Regions from separate parts of the Homo sapiens genome. Here all the other regions are linked to region 3. Evidence: fine-mapped expression QTL. A gene starts in region 3. Each other region holds a variant in brackets. All regions are shown on one strand. Distances are between the middles of the regions. Region 1 overlaps DYNC1LI2 (dynein cytoplasmic 1 light intermediate chain 2). Region 2 holds the start of LOC107984821 (a long non-coding RNA gene). Region 3 holds the start of NAE1 (NEDD8 activating enzyme E1 subunit 1).

The links.
Region 1: its variant is fine-mapped to the expression of NAE1 in whole blood (INTERVAL, PIP 0.93).
Region 2: its variant is fine-mapped to the expression of NAE1 in lymphoblastoid cells (GTEx, PIP 0.93). The same link has a PIP of 0.9 or more in esophagus mucosa.

What each region holds. Positions count from the first base shown.
Region 1 is chr16:66,722,517-66,730,516 of GRCh38, reverse strand. It overlaps DYNC1LI2 (dynein cytoplasmic 1 light intermediate chain 2), which reads left to right. Exons shown (of 13, transcript NM_006141.3): 8 at 294-405; 9 at 1,418-1,477; 10 at 2,275-2,316; 11 at 2,712-2,829; 12 at 4,573-4,689; 13 at 6,695-8,000. The coding sequence ends at 6,795. Among named protein-coding and RNA genes, the nearest start is that of DYNC1LI2, 25 kb to the left of the region's middle. The variant A/C (reference allele first, on the strand shown) is at 3,431.
Region 2 is chr16:66,901,232-66,909,251 of GRCh38, reverse strand. It overlaps CDH16 (cadherin 16), which reads left to right. Exons shown (of 18, transcript NM_004062.4): 18 at 763-1,130. The coding sequence ends at 860. LOC107984821 (a long non-coding RNA gene) reads left to right here and starts at 3,992. Exons shown (of 3, transcript XR_001752244.2): 1 at 3,992-4,161. RefSeq lists an enhancer at 3,595-6,079. The variant G/A (reference allele first, on the strand shown) is at 3,417.
Region 3 is chr16:66,826,983-66,835,002 of GRCh38, reverse strand. NAE1 (NEDD8 activating enzyme E1 subunit 1) reads left to right here and starts at 4,027. Exons shown (of 20, transcript NM_003905.4): 1 at 4,027-4,156. The coding sequence starts at 4,104. RefSeq lists silencers at 4,067-4,291, 4,273-4,332, 4,343-4,552 and an enhancer at 3,803-4,303.

The DNA.
Region 1 (8,000 bases), 100 kb after region 3:
AGTTGTGGGAGAGTGCTAAATGCTTTTGAGTGGGGCAGCCTGTGGAATGGGATCTCATACTGGCTCCTTAGACCTTGGGCCCATGAACTCAGTATGGAGCAGGACCTGCGATGTTCTGATGGATTATACCCACAGTGTATTTTGGCACATCTGCCAAAAGCTACAAACAACCCCCAACAACTACACACTATATCTTGTGAGAAGTGTCCTACCCAGGAGTCCTGAATGTGATCTGAGTATGCTCTAAGGCAGCCCCAGGAAAAGCAATTCAGTCCCTCTCTCTTTGCCTTTAGACCTGCAGGCTGGGACAATGAAAAGAAAATAGCTATTTTACATGAAAATTTTACAACCGTGAAGCCGGAAGATGCATATGAAGACTTTATTGTGAAACCTCCCGTGAGAAAGGTAGTCAAAGACAATTGCTTTAAGGGTTTAGGGCCGGGCGCGGTGGCTGATGCCTGTAATCCCAGCACTTTGGGAGGCCAAAGCGGGCAGATCACATGAGGTCAGGAGTTTGAGACCAGCCTGGCGAACATGGCAAAACCCCATCTCCACTAAAATACAAAAATTAGCTGGGTATGGTGGCAAGCGCCTGTAATCCCAGCTACTTGGGAGGCTGAGGCATGAGAATCACTTGAACCTGGGAGGCAGAGATTGCAGTGAACCCAGATTGCGCCACTGCACTCCAACCTGGCAACAGAGTGAGACTCCATATCAAAAAAAGAAAAGAAGAAAAAGGGTTTAGGTGTTTTTTAATGCAAAAAGAAGCCTATAAAGATGGGGCGTGGTGGCTGATTCCTGTAATCCCAGCAGTTGGGAGGCTGAGGCAGGAGAATTGCTTGAACCTGGGAGGCGGAGGTTGTAATGAGCCGAGATCGGGCCACTGTACTCCAGCCTGGGTGACAAGAGCGAGACTCCATCTCAAAAAAAAAAAAAAAAAAAAAACTATAAAGAAACAGGTCTTACACATTGTATAGTTTGTGGGGGGTAGTGGGGAGTAGTAAGTCCCAGGGCCTTTTTGTTGATCTTTAAATGAGGTCTGGCGTTATGTAAATGGCTCAGGGCTGGTGGGAAGGAGTGATGGAATGCTCACCTGGAGTTGGTGGTGTTTCCCATTAAGTCCTGCCAGTGCTGCCGTTGCCTCTGGATTACTGTTACTGGATCCCCTCATGTGATGTCCTGCAGACCCTGAGGTGTTTAGAACCTGCCAGACTTAAAAATGCCAGTTGGCTACATGCTGCGGCTGGTTTTGGGAGAGGTCTGTGCCAGGCTAGAAAAATATTACTCTGCAGTCTCAGTAGGGATCTCCCAGACCTGTGTTGAAGCCTGAGCCTCGGACTCTCCTTTCGGCATGAAGTTTGACAGTGGTTAGGAGTATTCTTGGCCTGTGGCCACAAACATGTATGTTGTTTCACAGCTGGTCCACGACAAAGAGTTGGCAGCAGAAGATGAGCAGGTGTTCCTAATGAAGCAACAGGTAAGAAGACCAGTGAGGTTAGAACAGAGGCCTTCTCATGCATGAAATGCCAGTCCCTAGGGTGGGGTTGGGGGTGTCTGCATGTGGGAAGTCACAAAGAGCTTGCAGTGGTAGAGGGGTTGAGACCAGGTCTCCTCATTCCCTCCTTATTTCTAGGATTAGTTGGGGATGGACCACCTCCTTAGGAGATCACCTACCTGCCTTGCAGACTCTCCTACAGGAATAGTAGGATTCGCATCTTTTAAGTGCTCTTTCTTTGGAAATGTGGTTTTCTGGCATAATACTTCCTATGTTGACAGTTAACCAAGTAACCTGACCACACTTCCATTATTTCATGTAGCCTCACACAGCCCTGTACATAAAGGCAGGTGATGCCTGTTTTGCAGATGAGGAGAGTAACTTCCCCAAGCTGACAGTTTAGAATGCAGACTTCCCATTTCTGTCACCCAGATTATTGTTAGATGTGTCCTGGGTCCACCTATCATCTGCCCAGTGGTACAGGCAGGTCAGCAGGAAGTTTTGATGGTTCTTTTTCCAACTGTTTCCTTCTTTTTCCATCTTTTTCCTTTCTGTCCTTTGCTTGCTTCCTTAGCTTCAAAACTGGTTACTTGGAGTATTTTTTTTCACCATATACCAAACGGCTCAATTAAAATTTTTTGGCATCTGTGGTATAAAACATAGGACTTAGTTGTTGTTAATAGTGCCCTCTAGTGGAGTACTTGGAGTAAGTTTTTCTCTAGACCTTCAGTGCTCTCTGCAGGCCTTGGTTAATAGCCAGTTTGTCCCTCTCTTTGCAGTCACTCCTTGCCAAGCAACCAGCCACTCCCACGAGAGCTTCTGTGAGTACCTTACACTAAACAGAGGGTCAAGGCCCAGTGTTGTGGGTGTCATCAAACTTTATACCATTATTTGTGAGAGCGTATATTTGTGTGGGTTTTGTATTTTCAGTGGGAATTTGGTTTCCCTAAAGACCCATGACCAGAAACATAAAAGAAACTCAAGAAGTTTCTGATGAAAGAATACAACTCTGGGAATTAGAGTGAGCTGGCTTTGTTATCTGGATGTCTTTCTCTCAGGAGAAAGAGAGCCAGAAAGGGCTTGAATTGAGAGCATACTCCCAGTCCTGTACCATAGCCTGTGAAAAATATCCCTCAGAAGCATGTCTCCATTTGTGGCATATGTATTTTTTGTTATTGTTATGCCTGTGTGTGACCTTAGCTGCTTTTGGACTTAGGAATCTCCTGCAAGAGGACCCTCTGGCTCTCCAAGGACCCAGGGTCGGGGAGGGCCAGCCAGTGTGCCTAGCTCCTCCCCAGGCACGTCAGTAAAAAAGCCGGACCCAAACATCAAAAGTATGTATTCCTCAAAAGTATGTCTCTTTGGAGAGTAGTTTAGTTTTAGACCTGAGCCCTGCAGGGGCTGGGTGGCTGAGTCTATAAGGTGGAGACTCATGGAAGCCAGGCTATTCTCTTCCCCGATAAGGGCTACTTTCCATTTCCCCCATTCCAGAGGAAGAAGGTCCATGGTAGGCAGAGACCAGGGCCTGTTCCTTTGTTAGAATTGGTAGCCCATGCACCTGGCTCTGTGTGAGACCTCACTTAGGCCCTGCTCATTCCTTCAGAGAGGAATGCAAAATAGTAACTTTATTTTTTTAGAGACAGGGTCTCACTCTGTCACCCAGCCTGTGGCACAGTGATACGATCATAGCACACTGCAGCCTCAAACTCCTGGGCTCAAGTGATCCTCCCATGTCAACTCTGGAGTAGCTGGGACTATAGGCGTGTGCCACCATGCCCAGCTAATTTTTAAAATTTTTATTGTAGGCCAGATGCAGTGGCTCATGCCTATAATCCTAGTACTCTGGGAGGCCAAGGTGGGAGGATAGCTTGAGCTAAAGAGTTCGAGACTAGCCCGGGCAACATAGTGAGACCTCGCCTCTACAGAATATTGAAA[A/C]ATTAGCTGGGCATGATGGTGCTTGCCTGTAGTCCCATCTACTCAAGTGGATGAAGCGGCAGGATTGCTTGGGCCCAGGGCATTGAGGCTGCAGTTGAGCTGTGATTATGCCACCATGCTCCAGCCAGGGTGACAGAGTGAGAGACTGTTTCAAAAAAAAAAAGGCCTGGCGTGGTGACTCAAGCCAGCACTTTGGGAGGCTGAGGCGGGCAGATCACTTGAGGGCAGGAGTTTGAGACCAGCCTGGCCAACATGGTGAAACCTTCTCTGTACAAAAATTAGCCAGGCGTGATGGTGGGCACCTGTAATCCCAGCTACTCGGGAGGCAGAGGCAGGAGAACGGCTTAATCCTGGGAGGTGGAGGTTGCAGTGAGCCGAGATTGTGCCATTGCACTCCAGCCTGGGTGACAGAGCAAGACTCCATTTCAAAAAAACACAAACAAAAATATTTTTTATAGAGGTAGGGGTCTCACTTACGTTGCCGAGGCTGATCTCAAGCTCCTAGCCTCAAGCAGTCCTACGCCCTTGGTCTCCCCAAGTGATGGGATTACAGGCGTGAGCCACCACCCCTGGCTGAGGGAGTCACTTTAAAATGTGTATTTTGAATCTGTAACTTTGTTTCTCATTATGTTTATATGATGACTGTCTATGAATTGTGGGGATTTTTCCCCCTTCACTTCTCTTGTCAAGCTCAATTACTTTTCAGATTAAGTAGCTTTTATCCCAGTAACTTAGTGATACTCACAGATACTGCCTGCAGTAAAATCATTAAAAAACAGTTTTATTTAATGCTTGTTTGATGGGTGTCTTCTATTCAGGATGTGAGCTTTTCACAGCAGGTTTGGAATGTTAAGTGCTCATGCAACTTTGAAAAACACTGTCTCATGGACGGGGAGGTGGTGTGGAGCACAGGTTATCTATTCTGCTCCCAAACAAGTGGGAAATGTAAACATGGTTCCACTTAGTAATCATGCTAAGTAGCCTCAGCAGTAGCAGTGTAAAGGCATCGTAGCGAATGAATGTTATCAATATCCTAGGAAGCTGATAGCCACAAGTGGCTAATGCCAAGCTGAGAACTAGGGTGTTTAATTTTAAGTCTTCCAGTTTATATGATGCTTTTTTTTCTCTTTAATTTTCCTTAGATAATGCAGCAAGTGAAGGGGTGTTGGCCAGCTTCTTCAACAGTCTGTTGAGTAAAAAGACAGGCTCTCCTGGAAGTCCTGGTGCTGGTGGGGTGCAGAGCACAGCCAAGAAGTCAGGTACAGAAGGGCCCTGGAGACTTGTGACTCTTGTGGTTGAGTAGTGCTGCAAGGATGGAGAGGCAGACACCTGCCCTGCAGACCCTGCAGTGTCCTGAATAGCCAAGCAAGGAAGCAGGTCTTCATTTCCTACTGAGCAGTGTGCCGTGCTTTCAGTGGGATTGCCTTACTACCATGCAGGTTTCCTTGGCACATTGAGAGTGGGATTTGTGTACATTTGGGTTCTCGGGAACTGGGTGTTGGGTGAGTTGAGGTATAGCCTAAATTACATATGTGGCCCTGTTGTAGAACCTCTCCAGTAGAAGTCATGGTCCATGGAGGGTGTACCAGTGACTTTTTTTTTCTTTTTCCAAGGTGGAGTTTTGCTCTTGTTGCCCAGGCTGGAGTGCAATGACGTGATCTCACTGCAACCTCCGCCTCCCAGGTTCAAGCGATTCTCCTGTCTCAGCCTCCCGAGTAGCTGGGATTACAGGCGCGTGCCATCATGCCCAGCTAATTTTTTGTATTTTTAGTAGAGATGTGGTTTCATCATGTTGGCCAGGCTGGTCTTGGAATTCCTGACCCCAGGTGATCCCTCCATCTTGGCCTCCCAAAGTGCTGGGATTACAGGTGTGAGCCACCGTCTGCGGCTGACTTTTTTTTTTTTTTTGATAGAGATGGAGTCTTGCTCTGTCGCCCAGGCTGGAGTACAGTGGCATGATCTCAACTCACTGCCAACCTCCACCACCCGGGTTCAAGCAATTCTCTTGCCTCAGCCTCCCGAGTAGCTGGGACTACAGGCACGCGCCACCACATCCGGCTAATTTTTTTGTATTTTTAGTAGAGACGGTTTTTCGCCATGTTGGCCAGGCTGTTCTCGAACTCCTGACCTCAGGTGATCCACCTGCCTTGGCCTCCCAAAGTGCTGGGATTAGTGCACCTGGCCTACTTTTAATTTTTTAAAATTATACTAAAGCCTTAGTTGTTCTGAACCAGTGATGTTTTATTTGTTCTATTTTTTTTTCTGTGATGCTTTGTAAGGATTTTTGTTTACTCCACTGCCCCCAGTTTGGCTGTGAACCCTCACTGTCTCACTGCAGAGTCAAGGCCTCCTCCTCCCTGAAGCTCCCTACTTGTCACATACACACCTCTGTGGCAGCCACCCACCTGTCCTTCCATGTAAGCAGGTAGGGCGGGTCTATGTCTTGGAGATCTCTGAAACAAAACAAAACATGTTTTCCTTGGGAATTACACATTTTCCCAAGAAGCTGGAGGACATTTTAAGGGGTTTTTGCTTTCCATTTTCCATTGGCTATAAGGTATGTTTATACATTGTTTTCCCTAATTGATGTCTTCAGGGCAGAGGAGACCCTCAGGAAATCACTTGGGGCAGCCTGGGCCTCCAGTGGCTCCTATGTTCTAAGAAACTCAGAGTCTGGTCTAGTGGCCCAGACTCTGGGCTGGTAGTATTCCCTTCTGGGAAATAGGTGTCTATTTCTAGGCCTGTTCGTGTCTGACAGCAGAAAAATACAAGTATAGATTTTGTGCAGGACTGAACTATCTTATTCTTATTGAAACATAATGTTTTCAGGCTATCCATTTGAGTCAGTCTAGAATGTTATAAACAAAAACACCTATCTGGGGCAAAGAAAATAGTTTCCTTCGTTGCTGAAATTCAGGTACTACCTCTAGGAAGATGGTGGTGAGAGTGCACAGGGGTCAGGGTTGGGTGGTGAGAGGGTTTTCAGAAAGGTTCTTGTATTTGGCACAAAGGCACCCCCCGCCAGAGAGCAGTCAAGTCACTCCCTTGGAGTTGGAGGAAGCACTGGCCTGTGACTTTTGGGATTAGGATGTGCCGAGTTGGGGTCTCCTCACCACTGCAGTAGAAAAGGGCTTTCCTCATTCTTATTAAGGTTACTGTCATCAAGTGATTATAGAAGGCGTATAATTTTAAATGCTCCTTTAAAAAAAATTGTTTCCTCTTCTCACATCATTACTTTGCTTTTTTGCTTTTTTTTTTTTTCAGGACAAAAGACTGTGTTGTCAAATGTTCAGGAAGAACTGGATAGAATGACTCGAAAGCCAGACTCTATGGTAACAAACTCTTCAACAGAAAATGAAGCCTGAACCTCCTTAAAAAGTGCATATGTCGAATGACCAAATAACTATGTATATTGATCTGCTAAGACCAGGATTTTTCTGATATGGCACATGCTATCAGTTTTTTGGGGCAGGGGAGATGAACTTTAAAAAAAAAAAAAAAACTTCATTGGCTTGTCCGAGTGTGAAATGCACATTTAGGAAGGTTACATGTCAGACCCTTTGTTAAGGATAACCCTTGGACTCTGGGGCATGTGGCTCTTTTGTGGGAGGCAAGCACATCTGGGCTTCTTGTGGAGGGGAAGGTAGAGTGAAAGAAAGAGGGCCCACTTTCTAACAGGGTGGAGCAAATGAGACCAAGAAATCATTGGTAAGATGATGGTTAGTCTGACCAGTTTCATGTTAGTAAATTCACTTGTTCTTGGGAAGCAGATTAAGTAGCAGAAAGTCCAGGAAAGAAAGACCAGAAGGAGTAATGAGACAAGTGATGGTGGGGAAGCTGAATGTTGAGGGAGGTGGAGGAAGGAGGAGATGAGCAGTGTCAGTAAATACTGTGCATTCAGTAGAAGTTGAAGAATCATTGTTAGAAGCATTTCCAAACAAAACACTAAGCAAAATGGGAATTAGGCTTATTTTGAATGCATCTTTAACTTACGAAAGATGTACTAATTGTGGGGGTGCCTGAGTCAGGCGGAGCTGACCCAGGGGTGGGAACGATGGCAGCTGCCCAGGACCCATGTGCTTGGCCCAGGCTATGTCCTCGTGAGAGGTACTGGGGTCCACGGATATGTGTTGTGGGGCAGACAGTCACTGTGGGATGTCTTCAAAGTCAGCAGTTACAGAATTAGTTTACTTTGAATTTTGTTGTCTAAATAGCTCCTGCTTTATTTTTTAAATTAAATTTTTTGTTTTTACTATCACAGGCTGGCCTAACTAATACAAAATAGGTGATGAACCTCTGGTTTTACCATAATGCAATGTGCCACGGAAAGTTTGGGGGAGGTTTTTAATGTAATTGCACTCTGGTTAATTGGCTCGTACCAAGCCCTGCCTTATGACTTGTGGAAAGCTTCAAGGAGTTCCACTGATGCAAAAGGGTCTTTTCCTAGCTTCCTGGTCTGATCAGTGCTATGAGATGGACAGATAAGTGTGAATGTTTTATACAGAAAATGGAAATGATACATTTCTCTTGTTAGGTGTTTTCATAAAATGTAGCATTTTTTTTCTTATGG
Region 2 (8,020 bases), 74 kb before region 3:
CATTACCTGCGTGGGCGAGGGCGATGGGTGGTTGGGACCACAGCCTCCAAATAAACACCTTTGTCCCCATGGTGCCCCTAGCTCTGAAAAAGGAAGCCCCCAACTCTCCTAGTCATTATGCGCCTGCCCTTTGATCATAGTCATTGTCATCATCATTGATAGTAGCATCTACGGTCACATGATTGCACATTGACTGTGTGGCAGGGACTATTGCCAGGAATCCTCCCAGCAACCCTGTGAGGTAGATCCTGGTATCTCCCCATTTTGCAGATGAGGTCATTGAGGCTCAGAGAGGTTAAGTGACTGGTCCAAGGTTACACAGTCAGGTTGTGACAGAACCCAGGTCTTTCTAGCCTAATTGCATCAGTCTAAGCCACCCCTTCTATCCCCTTTATTTCTTTAGCCCCTCAAATTTTCTCCTTGCTGGTTTTCCTTGCTGGTTCTAGCACACTGCTGTGATGAGCCTTTCTCTTGGAGGTCCATGGAGTTGGGATCCAACTTACTGGTTCCCCGATGTCCCCAAGAGAAGGGGACTTTGGAGGCTGAGTATACTGGGTCAGCCTCAGAGGGGTAGGGGCCAAGCCGGCCGAGGAGTCAAGCTTCTCCAGGCACCACCACAGAGTCATACCCAGCCCAGCCTCAGGATGCTGTCCAGGAAACTCATCTCTTCATTAATCCAATGCCAATCACAGGAAGTCCCTCGTGATGAACAAGTCCCACAGCCCCTTCTGAGGCCTGATACATCCCTCTTGGGCCCCACAGGAATCTTCCTCATCCTCATTTTCACCCACTGGACCATGTCAAGGAAGAAGGACCCGGATCAACCAGCAGACAGCGTGCCCCTGAAGGCGACTGTCTGAATGGCCCAGGCAGCTCTAGCTGGGAGCTTGGCCTCTGGCTCCATCTGAGTCCCCTGGGAGAGAGCCCAGCACCCAAGATCCAGCAGGGGACAGGACAGAGTAGAAGCCCCTCCATCTGCCCTGGGGTGGAGGCACCATCACCATCACCAGGCATGTCTGCAGAGCCTGGACACCAACTTTATGGACTGCCCATGGGAGTGCTCCAAATGTCAGGGTGTTTGCCCAATAATAAAGCCCCAGAGAACTGGGCTGGGCCCTATGGGATTGGTATGTCTGTGTCTCAGTGTCTATGTGTGCATGTGTGTGTGTGAGTGTGCACACACCTGCTTTTTCATCCCTTCCCCATCTCCTGCCACATAGAAAGGGTCTGGGCTTGAAGGACAAGACTGAGGTCCCCTGCAGGGAAGGACATGAAGACATCATATGGGCTATTGGTGAGAGCTTGGGGCCACAGCAAAGTGGGTCATTTTTGTGGGCATCCAGAGCCCACCAGCTACAGACCCTGGATGGGTGAACTCTATGCAGGTGATGGTCAAGGAGGGGTGTCTTTGAGGGTGTCATCTCTGTGTTTTCCTGGATGTCATCTTTGCTATGGGAAGGCAAAACCTTGTGAGTCCCCATCTTCTGCTCATGTGTGAGCACCTTGTGCTCCTGTGCATGAGTCACCTACACCCAGGGATGGGCAGAGGCCCCTCAGTCTCTGCAGGGCCCTGGGCAGGATGGTGAGGCCCCATGGGTCAGGAGCATGTGAGGTGAGGCTGGGGATGCGTCCTTCTGCCCCAGTGTAGGCTCCAAGGCACTGCTGTGTTTCACACACAGGCTGGTGAGTGCATGAGGGCATCTGCAGGAAATCAGAGAAGGGGAGTCACTTAGATGGAGACAATCGGAGCGGGACAGGCACCCCCGTGGCTTACTCTGGAGCTGCCCCTCTCTGAGGTGAACCCCTGACCCTGGCCCAAGATTAAGCCATGTCCTGATGCTCTGCTGAGCCCGGCTGAGCCCTGCTAAGTAGGAGCTGAGCTCTCCAGATTGACCTCTAATCCCTGACCTGTGGGTGACTCAAGATACATGCTGATCCCCATGTCCCCTTCTCAACCATCTCTGGGGAGTCAGGGTGGGACTTGCTGTCCCAAGCACCATGAGCTGATGATGGTCAATCACGGGAAAGGGAGAAAAACAACCTCTGTGGGGCCCAGGCCCTATTTTTAGGAGATAATCTCTCCACTATTGGCAGATTCTGTGGGATAGGGGCCAAGCCCAGCTAAGAGAGACAGGGCGGGCAACCTGGCAAAGACTCAGCCAGGATCCCCAGCCCAGGGGTTGGACTCTGAGGCTGGCCCCTGTCATCCTGGCTCAGGTACCCCCACTGGAGGCTCTGCTGGCTACCCTCATCCAGGCAGGGATTCCCTGCCCCTCTGCCAGGATATCCTCTGCTCAGCCTGCATGCACTCAGAAGTCTTCAGGGTGCAAATCTTCTGGAGGTAGTGTCTCATCTAATCTTCCTATCAACCTACGAGGGTGGATTATTGGCCCCATTTTGCAGTGGAGGATCTTGAAGATCAGGGAGGTTAAGGGCCGTAGCTGGGAGTCTTAGAACCACGGTACATGGCATAACTATCTGTCCAAGGTCCGTGTTACCTCTCTGGAAATGTCCACAGCGTTCAGGTGGTCTCTGCTCCCTCAAGATTTCCCAGCAGGGCCTTAGAGATCACCCAGATCAGCTCTTTCTTGTAAAGATGGAAAGGTGAATTGCAAAGAGAAGGAGGGAAATTTCTAGGTTCATACAGCCATAAGATGCGTCACTTGAGCTATAACCACCACTTTCTGGCCCTTATCCTAGATGGATAAGTAGGGAGATAGGAGGGTGCATGGGTGAATGAATAAGTGGATGGCTAGGCAGATGCATGGCTGGATGGATTGGTGGGTAGATGGATGGGTGGGTTGGTAATCGGGTGGATGGGAGACCCACAGACGAAAGGGTGGATGACAGGATACCAGGGCAAATGAAGGCATCTGCTCTAGTTTGAGGGCTTCTTCCTCGGGCCTCCAGGCCCCGGACCACTCTTGGTTGTCACTGCTGGAGCTGACCGCCAGGTCCACAAGCCCCTTCTCCACAGACAAGGGCCCAGGTTCCTTGGGCATCTGGGGACATAAAACTCTCCTGTATCCTCAGCCCCATTCTGCAGAGGAAGGTGGCCAGGTGCGGTGGCTCATGCCTGTAATCCTGGCACTTTGGGAGGCCAGGGTGAGAGGATTGCTTGAAGCCAGGAGTTCAAGGCCAGCCTAGGCAACAAAGTGAAACTCTGTCTCTACATAAACAGAAAGAGAGAAAGGTGAGGATCAGAGAGGGGGTGTGGCTTATCCTGGGTCGCAGAGGAAGAGAGACACAAAGCTGATTGGTCTCTAGGCTTGGCAGTGGGCCAGTGAATGCCTGTAGAGATTAATGCTAGTGAGGCAGGCTTCATTCTGTAGGCAGGGCCTCGCCCCTGCTAGAGCAAGGTGGGGGCCAACCAATAGCTCTATGGGTAGAAGAGCATGTGTTGTGCTTATCCATGC[G/A]ATGTGTTCCCAGGAAAACTGCTTCACCTCTCAGAGCCTTGGCTTACTTGGTGATACAAGTTTTTGTCGTTAGGAAAACTACATGAGATAATCCCTGCACAATGCATTTAGCACAGTGCCAGGCACTGCAGGGCTCAGTAAATGTGACTTTCCCCAGTGCATGGATTGTTGAGGGACCTACATCCCCGCACTTACACACACTCCCTAGAGGTCCCAAGAGGCCCAGGCTTTTGGGAGGGAGTTTGGAGAGGGGCCCCAGCTCCAGCCCCAAAGCAAGAGTGCAAGACACCCCTTCCAGCCCCAGCTCCCTTCCAGTGCCCAGGTGCTCTTAGGGTCTGTGATGTCCAGGGTCTCACAGGGTTCTGGGCTGGAGCTGGAGGGGGTTGAGGGGTGGGCCCCAGCAGAGGCCTCATGCTCCCCTTCTCCCAGGCCCCTTCCAGAGGCACTGGGCCAGATCAAAGGGACCCAGCACGGAGGATCAGGAGGCAGCTTGGAAAGAATGTAAACATGAGGATATTTTTAAACTTTTTCCAGCCCCAGCGATTAGGGCTCTTGAAGCCGGAGGCCCAGAGGTCAGTCTGGCCCTCACCCACAAAGAAAGCAACAGTCTCGGGCCCTCAGAGACCCCACCCCACCCACATCTACCTACACCCACCCAGGACTCTAGCTGGGGCCTCGGGGCAGAAGTTCTTCCTAGGGTGTCACCTCCAGACACACTGCTGCGGCGGGAGGATGCGTTTCTAATGTGAGGGCCTCAGCGGCATGGGACCCTGACTTAAGGGGTGGTGGGGGCCTACCAGACAGGGCTGATGTTGGAAGACTGAGCTTGGGAGGCTTCTTAGTGGCCCAGTCACTCTACCAGGCGTGTGTGCACACGTGTGTCTGTGGGTGTATAAGTATATGCTGCAGTCTGGTCTGTGTGATGCACGCATCGGAATGTGTGAGTGTGCGAGGAGCTTGCCTCGGCCCACCCTTCCTCGTTCTTCCCTAGCATCCCTGACCTCCTCCCTGGGACCCCTTTGGTAGGTGGGTGACATGGGGGGGGTACAAAAGAGGAAGAGTCGCCTGAGAACAGGGAGGACGCGAGGAGAGAAAGGCGCCAGAGCCGGGGGCGAGGAGGCTGGGGGTACCAGGTCCGGGGCCATGCAATGAGTCAGGCTGTGAGAGCTGCAGGAGTCACTGATGTGGGGACTGGGACTCGGCTCCCTCCATCACCCCCATGTGTCACAGTTGGAGATGAGGCTCCCTGGATCTCCCGATTCCGGTGTCACAACTACGCTCACCATGGGTTCCATGACAACAGCCTCTTACCTTGTAGTCACGCAGCTACCCTCACACCCTCACAGGAGTGTCACAGGACTCATGCAGGGCCCCCCCAACACCACCCAGTGGTCGTATCCCAGTGACCCCTATCTGTGAGACATGAGGACCCTCACTGTCTTCACATCCCCACTGACCAGAAAGCCAGAATTCACAGGGGCACTCAGAAGCCAGACTAGACTGTGGTCACCAGGACAACGGGGTACCCAGCCCCTGGAGAGGCCTCGGCTGGCTATCTCATTCTCCAGGGGCTGCTGTGCCACCTTGCCCTGCTTGTGGGCCCTGAGAGGGACAATGTCCAGCTCCATGTCATACAGCTCCCCAGTGAAGGGCAGGGCTCAGGCCCCAGCTCAGGATCAATGTGGCGATGGCATCCCCTCCAGATTCCCCCTGCTGAGGCAGCAGCCACAAGGGATGAGGCTTGGAGTTTTACCCTAAGATGTGGTAGGATTTTGGGCCCAGGATGATGGGGGAGCTAGGTGGGGCTGGAACTGATGGAAAGGGGAACCTGGAGACTCATCCTCAGTCTGAGGCTGAGGCTGGACACCTAAAGACATGGTTTGTGTCCCTGTGGGTGCCCACTCACTGGGGCTGTTGCTATTCTTATCCACCTCCCAGTGGCGGTGGCAGTGGTAGTGGCAGTAGGGTCAGAGATAGCTGCTACGTGGGAGAGAGTCATGAGCACCAGCCCTTTATCTGACACATTCCCTGGAAACTTGGCAGGGCCTGCCAGCCTCTGGGGGCCTGGGCGGGGCAGGGCGTGAGGTGGTCACAGGGATAGGATGAGGGGGCTGGGCTGGGCTCAGTGCCGATGAGGACCCGCTCCAGCTGCCTCTCCCACAGCCAGGCAAGGTCCCCTCAGAATTGGCCTGGGGGGTTCTAGTGAGATTTCTTCCCATGCGGAGACTAAGACCACAGGTCACCCTCAGCTCCTACTCACCCTCAGTCCAACCCAGAACACCCCACCGTTGGCCCCATCTCTGAGCTTTGGGCACTCCAGAGAACAATGTATTGGCTTCCTCAGTGATGTGGCTTCTTCCACGGGAGAGCACTGAACTGTGAGCCACAGTGGCCCCATCTGGTGGCTGTCCTGCCTACTTCCCAGCCTCGTGATCTTGGGCAAGTCAATTCCCATCTCTGAGCCTCAATTTCCTCATCCCTCTCCTGGGCTGTGGTGGAGATGACAGGGTCCAGTGGTCAGGAAGCAGGCTGACGGCTGCAAAATGTGAGTGTGTGTGCACGTGAGCACTTGGGTGGGGGGGCCAGAGTGGGGAGAGGGAGGCATATGGGTCTCCCACTTTGGGAGACTCCCGCCCTATGGATTTTCCACTGGCATGTCGGCACCCTCTCCCCTAAAATAGGCTCTACGAGCCGTGTGCGACAGAGCCCAGACTGAGGGGCCTTTTTTTAGCTGGCCTTTGATTGTCAGCTCTCGAGCAGCTGCTATTTTGAGCCCCAACGCCTAGAGGAGTAGGGCCAAGTGGGGGCTGAGGTTAGCTCAGTGGGCCTGGCTGGCTCCCCGAAGGCATCCCCAAGGGGGCTGGCCATCCCATCTCACACCCTGCATTGCTGGCAAGGAGAGCACGACATCTCCTATAGATGGGGCCTAAGGGCTCCTCTGTCTACCTCTGCGGAAGCTGCAGACCTGGCAGAAAACAACCACATTTACAGAGCACACCCCACAGGCCACTGCCCACCCACCCCCACCCAGAGAAGAGCATGCTGTGGGGATTAACTGAGATAATACAAGCAAAGCCCTTACTTAGCACAGAGGCTGGCACATAATTGGCTCTCAAAAAATGGAACAGCTTCTGTTATTATTGTCATTACAGCTGCAGTCATTCTTGGTTTTGTTGTTATAGTTATGTTTTTACCAGATTTCTTTCCAGTCTTTTTTCTATGCATTTATTTTATGTTACTGGGTTCGGGACATGACCCTTCCCACCCCATCCCCATACATGTGTACACGCCTAGTTTCAGCAGAAAGCAGCCCCTCTCAGTCTGCTGGGGTGCCCTCTATGTCTCTGTGCTCCACTCCATACAGGAATCCCCCCTTCTATATAAGGCTTTTGGGGTTGACCCTCGAGATGGCACTTGACCTTTCAGAGTGGATGTAGTTGTGCCCACAGCTTCTGTGATTTCTTCAAATGCCATCAGCCACTGCCCCATAGGATTCCAGGCCCCCAATTCTGAATGTCCAGTTCTAGATGCTAGATCCCTGGCTGGCCACTGTACCTGGGTTCTAGAGCCCTCTGACTGGAACCTGAGGAAATGGGCTTGGTCCACAGCTAGATGTGAGAAAGTGGCATTGCCACTGCATAAGGCGTGGCAATGGATCCTAAGGACAAATGTAGATGCTCTGGGACTCTGGTTATGGGGTGTGTGTGTGTGTGTGTGTGTGTGTGTGTGTGTGTGCAGGGGTATGGGCTGCTGAGAAGAGGGGGATGAGGGTAGGAAGCCAAGTTCTGGGAAGTGGCTGGGGCAGGCCCTCCCCTTCCCTATTGGGGTCACTTCCCAGCAGGGCAGCAAGATCAGCTGGGGTTGGGGGGTCATATGTTCCATCCTTGTCCCAAACAGTTACTGCACAAGGTGAGACTTCCTTGTTACCCGAAGGACAAAAATAGGTCCCAGGTGATGGGCCACGATCCATGCCCAGAACCACAAGGGTTATTCTGAGTGGCAGGCACAGGGCCAGGCCTGGCCTCAGTCAGGTGGACCTGAGCTGGCAGTGGCATCCTCAGCCTGCGGGCTTGCTCTGTCCATTCAGGGACCCTAAATGTAGGTCGGGGGCTGGAACTGCGTGCAGGCTGACGCTCGATCGGTAGGGGCTTGAGTCCCAACTCCGCTATGTGACCTTGGGTAAGCCACTTGGCATCTCCGAGCATCTACCTCCTTCCCAAATGATGGGAACCCTGATCCCTGCCTCTCAGGGTGGGTGAGAGAATTTAGTGAGGCTGACAGATGGCACTCAATAGATGCACAAATCCCTGCTCATCTGTCCTGGAGTCTAGGCCCAGGGGTCCAGAGAGGGTAAGGGCCTTGCCTGAATTGCCTAGCAGCAGAAAGGTCCCTTCTCCTCCAACTCTGAAGAAGCAAGAGCCAGGCACAAGAGCACATTTCTGGGAGGGCATATAGGGATTTTCCAGGAACAGCTCCATCCAACTGGAGAATTCCATTCCCAGCCCTGCTGCCCAGGGCCCAGGCTAAGGAGGAGACACTCCAGCTCACTCTGGTTCTGTCCAGTTCCTGCTCCTCGCCGGCAGAGCCCAGGCAGAGTGCCCCAC
Region 3 (8,020 bases):
GCCAGGGTAGGATCAAGCATGTATCAGAATCACCTGGATGATTTGTTAAAACAGTTTCCTGGGCCTCACTCTACAGTTTCTGATTCAGCAAGTATGGATAAGGTCCAAGAATTTGTGTTTCTTTTTTTTTCAGAGACAAGGTTTCGCCATGTCACCCAGCCTGGTTTCGAGCTCCTGGGCTCAAGCAATCCTCCTGCCTTAGCCTCCTAAGTGTTGGGATTACCGGAGTGAACCACCTTACCTGGCTTTCTTTTTTTTTTTTTAATACTTAATTTTTTTTAAGAGAGGAATGTCTCACTCTGTTGCCCAGGTTGGAGTGCAGTGGCGAGATCATAGCTCACTGCAACCACAAACTCCTGGGCTCAAGTGATCCTCCCACCTTAGCCTTCCAGGTAGCTAGTACTACAGGCATACACCACCATGCCTGGCTAATTTTTAATTTTTTTTTTTCTTTTTGTAGAGACAGGGTCTTGCTATGTTGCTCAGGCTAGTCTCAAACTCCTGGCCTCAAGGAATCCTCCTGCCTTGGCCTCCCAAAGTGCTGGAATTACAGTCATGAACCACTGTACCCAGCCAAGAATTTGCCTTTCTTTTTTTTTTTTTTTTTTTTTTTGAGACGGAGTCTCACTCTGTCGCCCAGGCTGGAGTGCAGTGGCGGGATCTCGGCTCACTGCAAGCTCCACCTTCCTGGTTCACGCCATTCTCCTGCCTCAGCCTCCCGAGTAGCTGGGACTAGAGGCGACCACCACTGCGCCCAGCTAATTTTTTGTATTTTTAGTAGAGACGGGGTTTCACCGTGGTCTCGATCTCCTGACCTCATGATCCACCCGCCTCTGCCTCCCAAAGTGCTGGGATTACAGGCGTAAGCCACCGCGCCTGGCCGAATTTGCCTTTCTAACAAGTTTCCAAAGTGATGTTGATGCCGCTGGTCCAGGACCACACTTTGAAAACCAATAGCTTAAATGAATTACACCATGGCTTCCTGGTCTGATATATCTGGTTTCCACCCTCCACAACAGGGAGAACTCACCAGTGGGCCCTGAATTCTTTCATGTCAGGGCCGTCAAAAGAACTGTGTCTGATCAGCCTCCTCTGCTCCAGCATAGGCACCTTTACATGGTTTTACGGGTTGAATTATTATTATTATTTTCACTTTCATCTCTACAGAAAATAATCTAAAAATTAGCCAGGTGTGGTGGTGGGTGCCTGTAGTCTCAGCTGCTCAGGAGGCTGAAGTGGGAGGATTGCTTGAACCTAGGAGGTTGTGGCTACAGTGAGCCATGATTATACCACTGCACTCCAGCTCAGGTGAAAGAATGAGATCCTGTCCCCCACTGCTGCCAAAAAATAGTAACCAGACTCCAAAAGCATAGGCAACAAAAGCAAAAATAGACAAATGGGTTTATACCAAATTAAAAAGCTTCTGCACAGCAAAGGAAATGACAGAATAAAGAGACAACCCACAGATTGAGAAAAAAATATTTACAAAATATACATTAGATCAGGGACTAATATCCAAAATGTACAAACTCAGACCGCTCAATAACAATAAAACAAATAACCCTATTAAAAATGGGCAGGGCCAGGTGCAGTGGCTCATGCCTGTAGTCCCAGTACTTTGAGGGGCTGAGGCAGGAGGACTGCTTCAACCCAGGAGTTTGAGACAAGTCTGGGCAATATAGTGTGACCCCACCTCTAAAAAAATAATGATAATATTAATACAAAGCTTCTGGGCTGAATTATGTCCTCCTCAGAAGTTACTGAAGTCCTAACCTGCCAGTACCCGTGAAGGTGATCTTATTTGGAAACAGGGTCTCTGCAAGTGTAAACCAGTTAAGATGAAGTCATCAGTGTGAGCCCTGATCCAATGTGACTTGTGTCCTTAAGAGAGGAAACACAGAGACATGAGGGGAGAATGCCATGTGATGATGGAGGCAGAGACTGAAGTGCTGTGGCTGCTAGCCAAAGATTGCCAGCAAACCCCCAGAAGCCAAGAAGAAGCGGACGGATTCTCCCCTACAGGTTTCAGAAGGAGCATAGTCCCACCCGTGCTTTGATTGTAGACTTCCAGCCTCCAGAACTGTGAGACAATAAATTTCTCTTGTTTTAAGTCACCCAGTTTGTGGTTCTTTGTTACGACATTCCTAGGAAACTGATACCCTGAGGTATCATTTTACAGACAACACCAACACAAACCTTTTCAAAATCATTTACTTCTTCACGGGCAATATGACTAGCCTTCTACCAAATTTGTGGGTGTTTCCTTTCATGAAGTCCATAGGTATGAGAAACTAAGCAGTGAACTCTCATCTGCTGCCTTTTGACCTTCCTACTTTCCCGGAGTGTATTTTATTATCCCTTATATTTTACCTGTCCACTTGGAGAAGGAAATGTGACAGCACAAACACATGATGAGCTGGGAAAGCCTCACACCTCTGTTTCCCATCAGTGTGTTCCATGGGAGCTGGGTAAGGGCAAGGGAAGGTATGGGAAGGTGTACTCTCACCCTAGTCCAGGAGACCATGCCCAGGGCAAAGTGCAATTCATCATCACTGCATCATTACCATCAAACTGTGCCATCTCTCTGGTCCCCATCCTAGGGGATTGGGGGTGGGGATCTGTGTTCATTTTCACCTTATTTCAGGCAGTTATTAACCTGAAGGTGCCTGTAGGGTCTGCGAGATAGCAGGGAAGGAGTCTTCGTCTCCCTCACAGATGGTCACCTTGTCTTCAGCACCACCACCCCCCTCCCAATTGTTCTCATGGGGTAACCTCCTTCCTTGGCCTCCCATCCCCACAGGACAGCCGTTCTCTTCCTGAAAGGAGGGTCTTTTCAGGAAGTGGAGGACTTTAAATTCCTCCTTGGATCTATGTTCACAGTCTTCAGAACCCAGCCTGTCCCAACTGTCTCTCAAACCTTCTCAACCACTCCCTATCCTTCACCTGACCAAACTTACTCTAGCACCTACAGCTTGCTATGCCTTCTTTGCTTCCTAGAGATGGCACCTGCTGTTCCTTATGCTTAAAACACCCTTCCAGCTGGGCACAGTGGATCATGCCTATAATCTCAGCACATTGGGAGGCCAAGGCGGGCAGATCGCTTGAGCCCAGGAGTTTGAGACCAGCCTGGGCCATGACGAAACCCCATCTCTACAAAAAATGTACAAAAATTAGCCAGGTGTGGTGGTGCATGCCTGTAGTCCCAGCTACTTGGGAGGCTGAGGTGAGAGGATTGCTGCCTGGGAGGTTGAAGCTGCAGTGAATTGAGATCACACCACCGAACTCCAGTCTGAGCAATAGAGAGAGACCCTGTCTCAAACAAAACAAAACAAAACAAAACAAAACACTCCTCCATCTCCAAACCACATGAAACATTCTTGGAGAGGGGGACTGGGGAGGTTCTTCTGTGCACCCCTGAGCACCCTGCTTCCCTCTATCTAGAGGAAGGCCACATTGTCTGGTAAGTGCTTGTTTGCTGTCCCTCTTCCTTCATGAGACTAAACTCTCCAAGAACAGAGCCCTGGACTTGTCTGCATCTGCAGCAGGGAGCCCCTAGCTTTGTGATTCAAAATAGGCTTGTGGGCTTTTCATGAGAGGAAGAAATGGGTGAAAAATAATGATCATCAAAATGAAAGTTATTATTCATGCAAGATTTGGGGGGAGTCTGGCCTCCTGTATTCAAAATCTCATTTAAGGTCAAAAGACACTTGGGACCCATTTATCCCCACTGCACAGGTGAGCACACTGAGGATTTGAGAGGTAAAGAGTAGATCTCACAGCCAGTTAAGTGGTCGAAATACAAGTATGCCTGATTCCAATGCCCCAGTCGCCCCCAATTACTGCATGGACAGAGGGCAAATTGGCAGGCTAGCGGGTCTGCCTTTCTGGCCGATGGGGACCAAGAGCCCCAGACCCGCTCGGGTACCAGGGCCGCTTAGGCCCCGGCGTACCGGCGACGCGTGCGCAGTGCAGTGCGGCGCCCCCTGCAGGCAGCGCGCAGGAGACGGTAGCGGCGAAGGGGCGCTCAGTGCGCCTGCGCGCTTGTGGAGCTGGTGGCGGCGCTCCGCAGGGGCTCGGCTGTTTTCCGCGCGGCAGGCGCGGCCATGGCGCAGCTGGGAAAGCTGCTCAAGGAGCAGAAGTACGACCGGCAGCTGAGGTGAGCCGAGGCTCACCGAGCCGAGGGCGGGCCGGCGGGCTTTCCAGCATTCGGGCCGGGCCTAAGGGCGCGGGCGGCGCGGTCGGGCCTTCCTCAGGCCTTCTTCCAGGCTGGGCCGGGCCGTGCGGGGCGCGGGAAGCCGGCGCTCGGAGCTCCCGCCCTGGGCCAAAGGTGCTCCGCGAGGGCTGGGACCCCTTCCCCCGCCACGCGGTGTGCAGTTCGGGGGACGGGGTCCCCAGCGCCAGCCGGGTAGCTAAGGCGGCTGCCGGCCCCGTTGCGCCCAGGCTCCTCGTTTTCCGAATGGGGAGGCCCGGGGCGCACCGCATCCCGGCCGCGAGGGCGGCACAGAGGGTTAGGTTTTGTTCTCAGCCAGCGCTGTCCAATGGAAATAAAATGCTAGTCTCATGTGAGCCGCAAATGTAATTATAAATTTTCTAGTAACCACACTAAAGGTAAAATGAAACAGATGAAATTGATTTTTAAATACAATTTAACCCAATATGTCCAAAACATTACTATTTCAACACAATATAAAAAGTTCTTGAGATATTTTACTTAAATTTTTATTTTTATTTTTATTTTTGTTTTTGTAGAAACGAGGTTTTTGCCACCTTTCCCCAAGCTGGTCATGAGTATTTTCCTTTTTAAAACTGTCTTGGAGGACCGGCACGGTGGCTCACGCCTGTAATCCCAGCACTTTGGGAGGCCGAAGCGGGCGGATCACCTGAGGTCAGGAGTTCGAGACCAGCCTGGGCAACATGGTGAAACCCTGTTTCTATTTAAAAATTCAGAAATTAGCTGGGCGTGGTGGTGCGCGCCTGTAATCCCAGTTACTCTGGAGGCTGAGGCTGGAGAATCGGTTGAATCCAGGAGGTGTAGGTTTCAGGGAGCCGAGATCGTGCCACTGCACTCCAGCCTGGGTGACAGAGCGAGACTCCGTCAAAAAAGCCCCCCCAAAACTATCGTATAAATATTGTATTTTACACTTACCAGCACATCTCAGTTAACACTAGCCTCATTGCTTGTGCTCAGTAGTACATGTGGCTAGCAGCTACCTTAATGGACAGTGCAGGCCTAAGCCATCAGGAGGGTCCTTGGGTACTTCCCCACCCTTGCCTTTTCTCCTTGCACTACCCATTCCTTATTTATTGAGCGTCTTCTGTGTCTTGAGGCTGTGGAGATAACAAAGCTGCTCAGCTTTCCTCCTTCCTGGAGCCTCTGAGACAACAGAAGTTATATGTCCCCAAGGACTGGAGCTTCTGTTTGCGCCACCAGCCTAGTGCTGTAGTAGAGGCTTTAGGCACTTAGTTCTGAGAGTACCCTTGAAAGCAACCATTTCCTGTGCTTTACAGTTGGAGAAACAGAGTCTTGGAGAAGTTAGGTAATTTGCCCAGAGTTCCCCATATCTTTGAGCCAGGATGTAAACTAAGGCTCTTCTGGCTTTTTCGGAGGTACTCAGTTACATCCTGCTTCCAAGCTTTTCGGAGAAGAAACAGGGTAACAGTCCTTATAACCAACTTAGGTTTTCTTGTAAATTCTTGGAGTTCTTGTGTTTCTAATGCAGGTATAACTGTACATGACAGAGCTGAGAAGATAGTTGAGGTTACTAAGCAACTCTAACAAAAGAGGGTTTTTGCTGAGGGCATTCCATTTAAGTCCCAAACTTTACTTTCATAGTGAGAACTGGTTTTGAAGTGTCAAAGGGAAGCAGTTAGAAGCAAAATGCAGCAGTCAATAAGCCCCTCCTTACTTCACGTTAGTTGGGCCAGCAAGATAGTAGAGAGGACTGATTCATTTGGCCTATTCTTGAAACATGTTACTTAGAGACACACCAGGATTCTTTTTTTTTTTTTTTTCAGGGACAAGGTCTCACTTTGTGACCCAGGCTAGAGTGCAGTGGCTAGAGTGCAGTGGCAAGAACACTGCTCACTGCAGCCTCAACTTCCTGGGCTCTAACGATCCTCCTGCCTCAGCCTCTTGAGTAGCTGGGACTACAGGCATGTGCCACCATGCTTAGCTAACTGTTTTAGAGATGGGGGTTTGCCCAGGCTGGTCTCGTACCTCTGCACTCAAGTGATCCTCCTGCCTCAGCCTCCCAAAGTGCTAGGATTACAGGCATGAGCCACAGTGCCTGGCCTCAGTATTCTTTTTGTTTTATTTTTGAGGTGGGTCTCAGTATGTTACCCAGGCTGGAGTGCAGTGGCTGTTCGCAGGTATGATTATTGGCACACCACAGCCTTGATCTCCTGGGCTGGAGTGATCCTCCTGCCTCAGTCTCCCAAGCAGCTGGGACTACAGGCACACACACTATCTCACCCTGCTTGAGATGCACCAGTATTTTTTTTTTTTTTTTTTTGAGACGGAGTCTCACTGTGTTGCGCAGGCTGGAGTGCAGTGGCGCGGTCTTGGCTCACTGCAATCTCCGCCTCCTGCGTTCATGCGATTCTCATGCCTCAGCCTCCCTAGTAGCTGGGATTATAGGTGCGTGCCACTGTGCCTGGTTAATTTTTGTATTTTTAGTAGAGACGGGGTTTCACTATGTTGGCCAGCCTGGTCTCAAACTCCTGACCTCAGGTGATCTGCCTGCCTCCGCCTCCCAAAGTGCTGGGATTACAGGCGTGAGCCACTGCGCCCAGCCAAGATGCACCAGTATTCTTAAATTTACTCTCCAACTATCTAAGCATCCATCAACCATATATGTCAGGTGTCTTCTACGTGCCATACTTTGATGGAGAAAACAGGCGTTTACGGTCCATCTGGTTCTTCTAGGCGATTCCTCCATACATTTGACAGCTGTCTGGGCCCTTATGGAGCATACAGTGGAGTGGAAAGATGGATGCTCAGCAAACAAAAACAAATGAAGCCAGGTACAGTGGCTTGTGCCTGTAGTCCCAGCAACTCTAGAGGCTGAGGCGAGAGAAATGCTTGAACCCAGGAGTTCAAGACCAGTCTGGATAACATAGTAAGACCCTGTATCAAAAACAAAAACAAAAAACAAGGCAGTTGCTTGACATGCTCTGGAGGACATACTGACTACATAATAAGGGGTAATCTGCTTTAAATCAGGTAACAGGGAAGGCACATTAATCACTCTATTAGAATGTTCATTGGGTAATATACTTTAAAGCACTCCTGTAGAAGTTGATGTGAGGCTTTTCAGATGATAATTCAGTTTTCTTGGTAAAGCTTTTGCAGAAGTCACAGTAATAAGCCCTATGTCGAGATCTTAAATGCATCTAACTTAACTTAAATGCATCTAATATAATTTTTTTTTTTTTTGAGACGGAGTCTCGCTCTGTCGCCCAGGCTGGAGTGCAGTGGCGCAATCTCGGCTCACTTCAAGCTCCGCCTCCTGGGTTCACGCCATTCTTCTGCCTCAGCCTCCGAGTAGGTGGGACTACAGGCGCCTGCCACCACGCCCAGCTAATTTTTTGTATTTTTTAGTAGAGACAGGGTTTCACCATGTTAGTCACGATGGTCTCGATCTCCTGACCTCGTGATCCGCCTGCCTTGGCCTCCCAAAGTGTTGGGATTACAGGTGTGAGCCACTGCACCTGGCACATCTAACATAATTTAAGAATAAATGAAATAGGGCTGGGCACGGTGGCTCACACCTGTAATCCCAGCATTTTGGGAGGCCAAGTGAGCTGAGATCATGCCACTACACTCCAGCCTGGGTGACAGAGCAAGACTCTGTCTCAAAACAAAACAAAGAATAAATGAAATAGAAAACAGATGAGGGTTTAAATCCAAAGACGCTTTTTAAATGTTTGTTTGTTTGTTTTGAGACAGAGTGTCGCTCTTGTGCCCAGGCTGATAAGGGGCTGGAAGACCAAGTTTCTGTTTCTAATTTGACCCTCTCCC